Linked DNA regions of Homo sapiens: region 2 is linked to region 1. Evidence: fine-mapped expression QTL. A gene starts in region 1. The other region holds a variant in brackets. All regions are shown on one strand. Distances are between the middles of the regions. Region 1 holds the start of IGSF22-AS1 (IGSF22 antisense RNA 1). Region 2 has its middle 30 kb from the start of TMEM86A.

Region 1 (5,376 bases):
GCTACAACTGACTTATCATCTTTGTCTGAAAGAGCAAAGGAAGTATTCGTTATATTAATGATGCTGGCGACCAGGGAAATTCCAAACTGCTGGACTTCCTATGCAGGAAACCAGGAGCTGGACCCTGGGACCCTTAATCTTGGGTTGGCAGAGTGTGAAGGGGCAAGAGCTGCCATTTATCTAGCACTTAATATTTGCCAGACATTGTGCCAGGCAGTTGTGTACTGTCTCATTTAAGCCTCATAGTCCTATAAAGAAGATGAGAAAACAGGCTCAATGAGGTAGCTTACTAAGGTCACATGGCTGGTCAGTGGCAGAGCCAGGGCCCTGGGCCCATTTGCTGTGCTTACAAGCAGATTTGAGTTATCAGGGATCTCTTTAGCTGTGGAATGAAAGCTGGATAGCACCCACAGTGCCTTCCCTGGCCTAGTTCTTTTACACAGCTCAGCAGCCTCTCTGGAGATATTGTCTCAGTGCCAGACACTTAGCTAAGCACTCGAGAGACAGAGCAACAGGACAAGGTCCTTTCCCCAAAGAAAGGTATCTATAACTGGATAAAAAAGGTCTGTAACCATGGAGACCACAGCAATGGAGTGTCATGGAAGGTTCAGGAGTAGCAGAAGGTGAGATGAGAGGTGGGGGAGGGGGAAACCTTCTTGGTTTGGGATTTTACCATGAGAGGAAAGCTGGGGGAAATTTAAGCAACAGAAAGCAAGGCAGGCCAGCTTTGCATTTAGAGTTCATGCTGCTAGCTGTGTGGCTATGAAGACAGTAGACTGGGAAGGAATAAAATGCTTCCCCCTATGTGTGCACACATGAGTAGAAACATGGCATGCATGTACAAAAGGGAGGGTTCCCTTCGCTCCTTCCCTTGTTTGTGCCCCCCACCGGTCCTTATCCTAGACCAGTTTTAATTTTTATTGCACATCAGAATCACCCGCAAAATTTTGTAAACATATAGGTTATTTCCAGAACCGTGCCAGAGAGATCGTGATTGGTGAGTCTGGTTGAGTCCTGATCACCAGTATCTTTTTTCTGAAGGCAGGTCTAGGCTCACCAAGAGTTGCAAACCACATCTTATCTAGGGATTGAGAACTCTCATGTCTGCAGGGGCCAGGCATATAACAAATGACATCGAAAGGATGGGAGAGTGGTAAGAACTGTGGCCAATTAAGAATGTTTGCACCACCTGTTGGCAGTCAGATTAAAAAACGGTGCCAGCCAAATAGTTGACCAATGGCCCACAAGACCAGCCTTTTGCGCCTCTCCCCCTCCTCGAGGCCGGACCCCGCGGCGCCCTCACCATAGACGGTGAGCGTGCAGCTGCTGCGGTCCTTGCCCAGCTCGTTCTCCACCAGCACGCTGTAATCGCCGCTGTCCTTGAGCGTGCAGGTGGGGATGACGAGGGTGCACACGCCGCTGGTGGAGTTGTACCAGAACTTGGAGTTGGCCGTGATGTTGACGTCGCCCTTGTAGAGGGTCACTGTGGGCCGCGGGTTCCCAAGGAAGGCGCAGGTCATGGTGCAGTCCTGGCCGCGGAGCACCGTGTGTGGCTTGAGGGGCGTCACGAAGCGCGGCGCGTGGCGCCAGTCCTTCTTCTCGTAGGGCTTGAGCTTGGCGCTCAGGTCCTGGACTGCGCGGGCGGGGCGGGGCAGGCCGTGAGGGCGCCCCAAGGCCCCCACCCACCACCCACGTCTTACAGTTCAGCTTACACGGAACCCCGAGGACCTAGGCCACATTCCCAGCGCCACCAACTCTGGGGGCCCAATGTTACACTGGTTCTTAAGGGCTCCCCACCCGCCCCCAGGCCTCCCCCGACCCCCCAGCCCCGTCCCCAGCCACTCCAGGGTTCTGCCACCCAAACCACGCTTTCCCACACCCCTGGGGCCGAGATGTCATTCCAGCGCCAGCTTCCTGGACCCGGTTATTCCCAGCCTTTAACTCCGCCTCCAAGCTTCCCCTACGTCATATCAGCGACCACAGTCTCCCCTCTTATCCCTTTAGCTCCTCAGTTCGAGTTTCCCGACGCGGCCCCCACCCTTAACCCCTAGCCTCCAGGGATCCCAGACATCCTCCCGGCTCCCTAGAGCCCTCCCCTGTTCTCAGCCCCGTTAGACCCTCCCCTCAGAGCAGAACGCGTTTGCGCTCTATGTCCCTCCGCAGCCCCTCCACCGTCCTCTCTGCCCCCAAAGGTACCTCCCCACCTCCACTTTAGTCTCACCCCTAAGTACCCCGAAGAAAGCCAATATTTCCTTCTCTCCGCAGCGTCCCAGATATTAACCGTTCTATCTCAATGGTTTTCAGATTTTATCTTGCCTCTTGGGTACCCTTTGGGACCCTTATGTCATCCCCACCATCAGGGCACCCAGACTTAACCCTAACTGCAAGTCCCAGACTCACTCTGGTCCTTATTGATGAGCCAGGTGTCCCTGGAGTCAAGTGGCTCACTGTCACCGATTTCATTCCGAGCCACCACTCTGAAGTAGTACTTCCTGCCTGGGAGCAGCCCCGTCACTGTGTACTTGTTGCTGAAGACACGCTCGGCTGCCGTGTACCAGGTGGCTGTGCTTGCATCCCGCTTCATGATGATGTAGTGAGCCTCACCGTCCTCCTGCACATCTGGGCTGTGGTTCCAGGTCAGAGTCACTGTGTTGGGGACTTCCTCAAACAACCGTAGGTTTGTGGGGGGCCGAGGGAAATCTGGAAGAGTTGGAAGATCTGTCAGCGACCTTGGGGCACCTGAAGTATTATGTCCCCACCCCAGCCATCTGCCAAGTCCGATGGAAGATAAGATGGGGCAAGTCTCAGGCAGCTGGTGTCTTGGAGTCGGAAAACTATTTCTGAAGTCTGCTCTGCCATTTACTAGCCTCGTGACCTGGGGTAAGTTACTTATCTGAGACTTCTTTCCTCAATTGCAAAATAGAGCTGACAATGACTATTTCGTAGAAATAGTGGGTAAAGAGACTGGCATGTAGTTACTGTTCAGTAAAAATGAATCCATTCCTTCCTTGGGGGTTTAGAGCTTTATTTTAAAGCTTCCAGCTCTCTTTAAGCAGTCACCCCAATTTTTAATGGATTCATCTCCATTTGTCCCTCCTGCCCCTCCACCCATTTCTACTCTCTCTGCCGACCATACTCTGTATGATAAAGTCTTGCTCTGTGGTGTCAAAGAAATCTTCATGGCCCTAAGGCATGACTTTCCTGTGGTAGGAACTCAAGCGGCACTGGGGAGCTGTGCTTTGGAGAGTGTACAGGGATGGGTCTTGGAGGCCTCTGCCTTCTCTCCATACCTGCCACGCGCACATGGATGTCATAGCGTGCTTCTCCAAACTCATTCTGAAGCAAGATTCGGTACACCCCTGAGTCAGAGCGCTTGGTGCTATTAATGAGGAACTGGGAGTGGTTTTTGCTCTTGGTAATTGTCTCTCGGCCCTTGGTGGGAACGCCATCTTTCTGCCAGATCACGTCAGGTGGTGGTGAGCCCTGAGTAGTGACAGGAGATGGCACAACTGGTCACACAGATGATATTTGGGGGCAGGCCTTCCTCCATTGTCGAGGAGTTTCCTGCCAGGCTGTCGCACTAGGGGTCTGGTGAGGGGCAGAGTCAGAGTCAGAGTCAGAGACTGTGATGGCTACAATAGCCATCTTGGTTATGTGGACAGTGTATGGAGGTCAGGGTCAGGGACAACTCACAGAGAAGGCTGCATGGATGCAGAGGGCTGTCCCAGCGCGAACCACCATGTGACTCTTCAGCCGGGCACTGAGGTCAAACTTGGGTGCAGCTGAGATGGAGGAGACAGAGGTGGAGGCATGGATCTGTCTTTCAAGAAGACTCTGCTTTAAGCCTCCTCATCAAAGCCTTCCCAACCTCTCCTCCTTTATGCCCCCACTACAGGCCATACAGACATCTAGCTGCCCTGCAACCCTGTGAAGCATTTATTTGTTTTCTCATCTGTCTCCTTCTACTAGTACGCAAGACCCTGGAAGGCAAGTCCTTGTGTCTTGTTTCTATAACCCTAACACCTCCTTTTGAAATTGCCATTGCAACAATTATAACAGCGAGAAAATTATGACAGTGAACGAGATCTGATCTAACCAACCCCCATCTTGCCTTTACCCTCCAAACTGCCCTTAATCATTCCTGGTTTCAGACCAAGCTAATGTTGGGAGAGACATTTAGTTTATAGCTTAGATGATAACAGTCTTCCCCCAAACTAAATCACCTTTGCGAAGCTAATGAAAGGCCACCAGGTTAGGAGGATGTGAGGAGCCTGAATTCTGCTAAGGTGTAGACATAAAAGATTACCAGCCATTATTCCAGAGATCACAAGATTTGCAACTCCCCAGCTGCTCCTGCAAATAACATCACTATTGTAGAGCCTAAGATTGGTGGTTGAGATGTCTTTTCAGGTTTTTGCATTTCTGACGACTGATGGCTCCACCTGGACCTGCTCTCCCTCCACCCCACAAGTCCTGAGGCCCCAGTCAGAAGCAGGCTCCCTGGACTTTGAATTTTCGGGGAATTGATTTGGGTAATAACTCTGTCTCCCATACAGCATGGCTGGCCTTGTGTCCATTAAACTCTTTGTTGCAATGCTGTGGTCTCAGTGAACTGGTTTTGCGTGTACAATGCGCAAGAAGAACCCATTGGGTGGTTACACCTTGACACACAGTAGATGCTATTTGGCACACAATGATTGATTTAGTAGGGGTGCCCCTGAAGTTACCCCTAACTTTGTCCAGGCACAACAACTATGGATGACTTTTTCATGATCCTAGCATCATCCAATTTTCCTGTGGGATGAGGCCCCAGAGGAGAAGGTTTGGAGGTACAATGTTGGGCATGAATCCCCAGCCCTCTCTGTGTCCTCACCTGGTGGTGGCATGGCACGGACCCCCTTGTCTAGCTCCACAGGCTCCCCAACCCCAGCCTCATTCACAGCCCGGATTCGGAAGAAGTATTTCTGCCTCTCGATGAGTCCTCCCACTGTGTAGCAGGTGCCTGAGATGGGGATCTTTGTGCACTTGGACCACTCCTTTGTGTCTTCAGCCCTCATCTCAAGGATGTAGCCAGAGGGTGGGTCTCCCTCTGCAGGCTCCCGCCAGGCCAGGGAAATGCTGGAGTTGGAGGAATCAGATACATGCAGGTCCTGGACCAGGCCTGGGGGTTCTGGGGTAGAACAGACATGTAGTCAGCCCCTCCAACTCATCTCCACTCAATGCCTTGCTCACTTCCCACACTCAATACTCCTGAACCCCATCCTTCACTACTTCTAGCTCCAGATCCCTCAGTTAACACCCTTAGTACCTAGCCTTATACACTCAACCTCCAAATTCAAATTCAGTTATCTTACTGTTTTAACACTTTCATCCTTA
Region 2 (5,376 bases), 39 kb before region 1:
ATACAGAAGCAACTGGCAAAAATTGAACTAAGATTTACTTTTTTTCCGTAGCTGGGATATAGGATGCAGCTATAGTTGAACAAGCAGTCTTTAAAAACTGCTGTGAAACACAAGCCATCAGGTAAAAATAAACGCTGCACTATTAAATTACAGGTTTTTGAAAAATCCAACTCACTTTCATCCTGGGCAGAGGTTGCCTAGTTGGTATAGAATCTGTTAAGTTTCAAGAAAGTTTGCCTTTGCTTTAGGTCATAAGTTACTTATTTGATTGCTGTATATGAATACATGGCTGTTCGTGACATTTTTTATGTGCAAATTTGAGATTTCAAAAATGTCCTGCCAGTTTAAGGATACATTGTAGAGCCGAACTTTGAGTTACTGTGCAAGATTTTTTTTTCATGCTGTCATTTGTAATATGTTTTGTGAGAATCCTTGGGATTAAAGTTTTGGTTACAAATTGTTGTTTAACTTGAAAGCCTGTTTTTCCTTGCAAACTCAAATCTGTGAGCTGAGCTTGGTACCAAGTCCAGGTATAACATTCCTATTGGAAGCCATACTTATATTTTCTCGTAAAGTGCTTTTGAATTAATAAAGTATTAGAAAAAAAAATTCAGATTGCTGAAATTTTGGGGAGATTAATTTGAGCAATAATAAAATTCTGGTCTCCTATACAGCCAGTTCTGCATGAATTAAACTCCTTCTGTATTCTAATTCCCCTGTCTTTTCTTTTTTTTTTTTTTTTTTGAGACGGGGTGAAAGCAAGTTTATTAAGAAAGTAAAGGAATTAAGTAAATTATTAAGAAAGTAAAGTAAAGGGAGTCTCGCTCTGTCACCCAGGCTGGAGTGTAGAGGTGAGATCTTGGCTCACTGCAAGCTCTGCCTCCTGAGTTCAAGCAATTCTCTGCCTCAGCCTTCTGAGTAGCTGGGATTACAGGAGCCTGCCACCACGCCTGGCTAATTTTTTGTATTTTTTGTAGAGACGGGGTTTCAGCATGTTGGCCAGGCTGGTCTCGAACTCCTGACCTTGTGATTTACCAACCTCAGCCTCCCAAAGTGCTGGGATTACAGGCATGAGCCACCACGCCTGGCCACAGTTCCCCTGTCTTGATGCATCAGCTTTGTCTAGGCAGCAGGCAAGGAAAACCTGTTGAGTCGTTACACTGCCACAGCCCCCAAATGAAACAGTTATATATGCTTGAGTTTTCCCTCCTCCCCTGGGCACCCTCTGAGTTATGAAGGTTCCTCCTGAAACCAGGGCCACATAAAGTAAGGGAGGAGACCATCCCTCATATTGTCTTATGCCCAATTTCTGCCTCCAAAGAAAGAAGAAGTAAAAACTAGAAGAAGTAAAAGGCAGAAATGAAATCCACAGGCAGACAGCCTGGCACCGTGCCCTGGGCCTGGTTAAAGATTGACCCCTGACCTAACCAGTTATGTTATCTATAGATTGCAGACATTGTATGGAAAAGCATTGTGAAAATCCCTGTCCTGTTCTGTTCCGTTCTGATTACCAGTGCATGCAGCCCCCAGTCACGTACCCCCACCTGCTCAATCGATCACGACCCTCTCATGTGGACCCCCTTAGAGTTGTGAGCCCTTAAAAGGGACAGGAATTGCTCACTCGGGAGCTTGGTTTTTTGGATATGTGTCTTGCCGATCTCCTGGCCGAATAAAGCCCTTCCTTCTTTAACTCAGTGTCTGAGGGGTTTTGTCTACAGCTTGTCCTGCTACAAAAGGAGCACATTATTTCAGTCAGCACTGTGCTGATCTGTGTTGACTCCCAGGATGGGAACAGGACAGTATTTCCCAAACTTTAATCATTTCAGAAGCTGCCTTATGACTTTTGCCATTTCCACTTATTATCTGTACTATTCAATCCCTTTTCTTCAGGTTTTTAAAGATTAAATTTTTTTTTCATTTTTTTTTTTTTTGAGACGGAGTCTTGCTCTGTCGCCCAGACTAGAGTGCAGTGGTGCGATCTTGGCTCACTGCAAACTCTGCCTCCTGGGTTCAAGCGATTCTCCTGCCTCAGCCTGCCACTGCACCCAGTTAATTTTTGTATTTTTAGTAGAGATGGGGTTTCACCATCTTGGCCAGGCTGGTCTTGAACTCCTGACCTCGTGATCCACCCGCCTTGGCCTCCCAAAGTGTTGGGATTACAGGCGTGAGCCACCGTGCCTGGCCTTAAATCTGTTTTAAAAAGAAATCTGGGAATTCACTATCACTCGACTTAAATAGAAGGCAACTGTAAAAACATATGCAATAAAATGATTAAGTTCTGACTAGATACAGTTTTAAAAGAAATTAGCAAAGTGTTTGGAGCTAGGATTCAAACCCAGGATTGAGCCAGAGACAAGGTCTTAACAACGGTGATTCATGTACCGCCTAACCGTGCCATTTAGGAAACCACTGGGGAGGAATGTAGTAGAATGGAACTTGCTGAGAATGAGAGCCAGTGAGGAATGGTGGAGGGTGGGGACTGAAATTTAATGGGAAGCCTTGGAATAGGGTTGCCAGATATATTACAGGACACTCAGTTAAATTTGGATAAAAGTATGTCACAACTAAAAAGGTACTTGCTTGTTTGAAATTCAAACTTAACGGGAGATCCTGCATTCTTATTAACTAAACCTGGCAATCCTAAAAACTTAACGGGAGGTCCTGCATTCTTATTAACTACACCTGGCAATCCCACCTAGGAATCAAGGGCATGATTCCAGCAGGAAATTTATCCTCAGGGAGAGGCAGGCAGTAGTTGCGTCTGTGAGGCCTGTGGTAAGACTAACCCCTGT[C/T]ACTAGGCAGCAGTAGAGAACCGAGCAGAGCAGGGGGAGGGGCTGATAGTGGGGAGAGAAGAGCGGACGGGTGTGGGACTTTGGGGCCGCTCTAGGTCCTCATGCAGAATCTCAAATCAAATTAGCAAAAGACAGGAACAGGCAGCTCACAGACAAACAGCTTATACATGGCTAATAAACAAGAAAAGACGGGCTGGGCGCAGTGGCTCACGCCTGTAATCCCAGCACGTTGGGAGGCTCCGGCAGGCGGATCACCTGAGGTCAGGAGTTCGAGACCAGCGTGGCCAACACGGTGAAACCCCATCTCTACTAAAAATACAAAAAATTAGCTGGGCGTGGTGGTGGGCACATGTAATCCCAGCTACTCAAGAGCCTGAGGCAGGGGAATCACTTGAACCCGGGACGCGGAGGTTTCAGTGGGCCAAGATCGTGCCATTGCTCTCCAGCCTGGAGGACAAAAGTGAAACTCTGCCTCAGAAAAAAAGAAACAAAGAAAAAAAAGAAAAAGAAAAAAATGCATAGTCCTACTCATAATTGAATTAGTCAACCTAAAATGAGTTCTTTTCCATCTCTCAGATTGGCAAAAATTTAAATATGAAAAAGATTACTAATACTGTGTTGTGGAAGTGTGAGAAAATACTATGTAGAGCAGAGACTGGTCACAGAAATTCAGGGACTGGAGTTTTTAAGGTTAATTTGGTGGGTAGAGTCTCAGGAAGTGGGGAATGCTAATTGGTCAGGTTGGAGATGAAATCATAGGGAGCTGAAGCTGTCCTCTTGCGCTGAGTCAGTTCCTGGGTGGGGGCCACAAGACCAGATGAGCCAGTTTATTGATCTGGGTGGTGTCAGCTGATCCATCGAGTACAGGATCTGCAAACTATCTCAAGCACTGATCTTAGGTTTTACTGTAACCTAAGATGTTATCCCCGGGAGCAATTTGGGGAGGTTTAGAATATTGCAGTCTCCAGCTGCATCTCTCAGACTGGCAAAAATTAAAATATCAAAAAAGATTACTAGTACTCTGTTGTGAAAGTGTGAGAAAATACTATGTGAGTAGAGACTGGTGCATCCTCTTTGGATTAATATCAAAAGAAGAGATGCACATAGCCTTTAATCAATGACGTAACTCCCAGGGATTTATCAGACAGATTTACTCTCCCTTAGATGTGGAGACATAAGAGGTTGTAAGTGCAACCTGGAGCTGGGTTGCTAGTCCATAAAGCACCTTGGATATCAATGTCGACTCCGCCAGCTGTGATGTCACTTGACCAATGGGAGGAGAGAGGGGAAGCGCTGGCTTAGGGAGCTGAATGTTGTCCACTCCCTCTCCCTGCCCTCTACAGCTTTTTCCCCCCAGCTGTGGCTGCTCTGGGAAGCAGAAGTAAATATTGATTTTTAGAACCATCTAGACCTGATGTCAAATCTGGTTCTGTCACTTACTTGCTGTGTGACCTTGTCCTAGCAAGTTCACCTCTCATTTTATTTTATTTTATTTTATTTTGATATGGAGTCTCGCTCTGTCGCCCAGGCTGGGTGCAGTGGCGCAATCTCCGCTCACTGCAAGCTCCGCCTCCCGGGTTCACGCCATTCTCCTGCCTCAGCCTCCCAAGTAGCTGGGACTACAGGCGCCTGCCACCACGCCCGGCTAATTTTTTGTATTTTTTGTAGAGACGGGGTTTTGCCATGTTGTCCAGGCTGGTCTCAAACTCCTAACCTCAGGTGATCCACCCACCTCGGCCTCCCAAAGTTCTGGGGTAACAGGCGTGAGCCATCACATCTGGCCTCACCTCTCCTTTTCATTCATTTGATGATACATGTATTCAAAAATATTTATTGAGAATTTACTACTAGGCACTGCAATTTTGTGGTGAACAAGACAAAGTCTCTTTATCTCTTAGAACTTTCAGGCATGCAGGGTTGTTGGGGAGACACAATAAACAAGAAAACTAATAAATGGTGTAATATGGAAATGGTAGTAGATACTAAAAAGACAATAAGATAAGATGGTTGGGTATGGTGGCTCACGCCTGTAACCCCAACCAAGGCAGGAGGATCTCTTGAGCCCAGGAGTTTGAGACCAGCCTGGGAAACATAGTGAGACCTTGTCTCTACTATAAACAAAAAATTAGCTGGTGTGGTGGTGTGCACCTGTGGTCCCAGCTACTTGGGAGGCTGAGGCAGGAGGTATCACCTCAGCCCGAGAGGTGGAAGCTGCAGTGAGCCGTGATGGTGTCACTGCATTCCTGCCTGGGCAACAGAGTGAGACCCTGTCTCAAAACAAAAAACAAACAAAAACAATAAAATAAGATAAAATGATACAGTGACCAGGGATGTTGCTTATATGTAATAGGAGATGACAATTCTGTTTCACAGGGTTGACATCAAAATTACATAAGATACTACATATGAAGCACTTAGCATTGTGCCCGAGACAGGGTATTAATTATGGTAACAATTACTGAATGTTTGTAATGTGCTAGACACTGTTCCAAGTACTATGGGTAGACTAACTCATGTAATGACCTTGTTTTCCAGATAAGGAAACTGAAGCACAGGTAGGCTGAATTACTTGCCTAAAGTCAGG

What was found. PIP is the estimated chance that this variant, and not a neighbour inherited with it, causes the effect.
Region 2: its variant is the best candidate, but not a certain one, in a credible set for the expression of IGSF22-AS1 in unexposed skin (GTEx, PIP 0.52).

Annotation. Positions count from the first base shown.
Region 1 is chr11:18,704,514-18,709,889 of GRCh38, forward strand. IGSF22-AS1 (IGSF22 antisense RNA 1) reads left to right here and starts at 1,968. Exons shown (of 3, transcript NR_186353.1): 1 at 1,968-2,636; 2 at 2,765-2,880. It overlaps TMEM86A (transmembrane protein 86A), which reads left to right. Exons shown (of 3, transcript NM_153347.3): 3 at 1-272. It overlaps IGSF22 (immunoglobulin superfamily member 22), which reads right to left. Exons shown (of 23, transcript NM_173588.4): 18 at 4,874-5,170; 19 at 3,694-3,782; 20 at 3,291-3,483; 21 at 2,401-2,700; 22 at 1,304-1,633; 23 at 1-25.
Region 2 is chr11:18,665,880-18,671,255 of GRCh38, forward strand. It overlaps the pseudogene SRSF3P1. Among named protein-coding and RNA genes, the nearest start is that of TMEM86A, 30 kb to the right of the region's middle. RefSeq lists a silencer at 1,149-1,349 and an enhancer at 2,577-3,078. The variant C/T (reference allele first, on the strand shown) is at 2,793.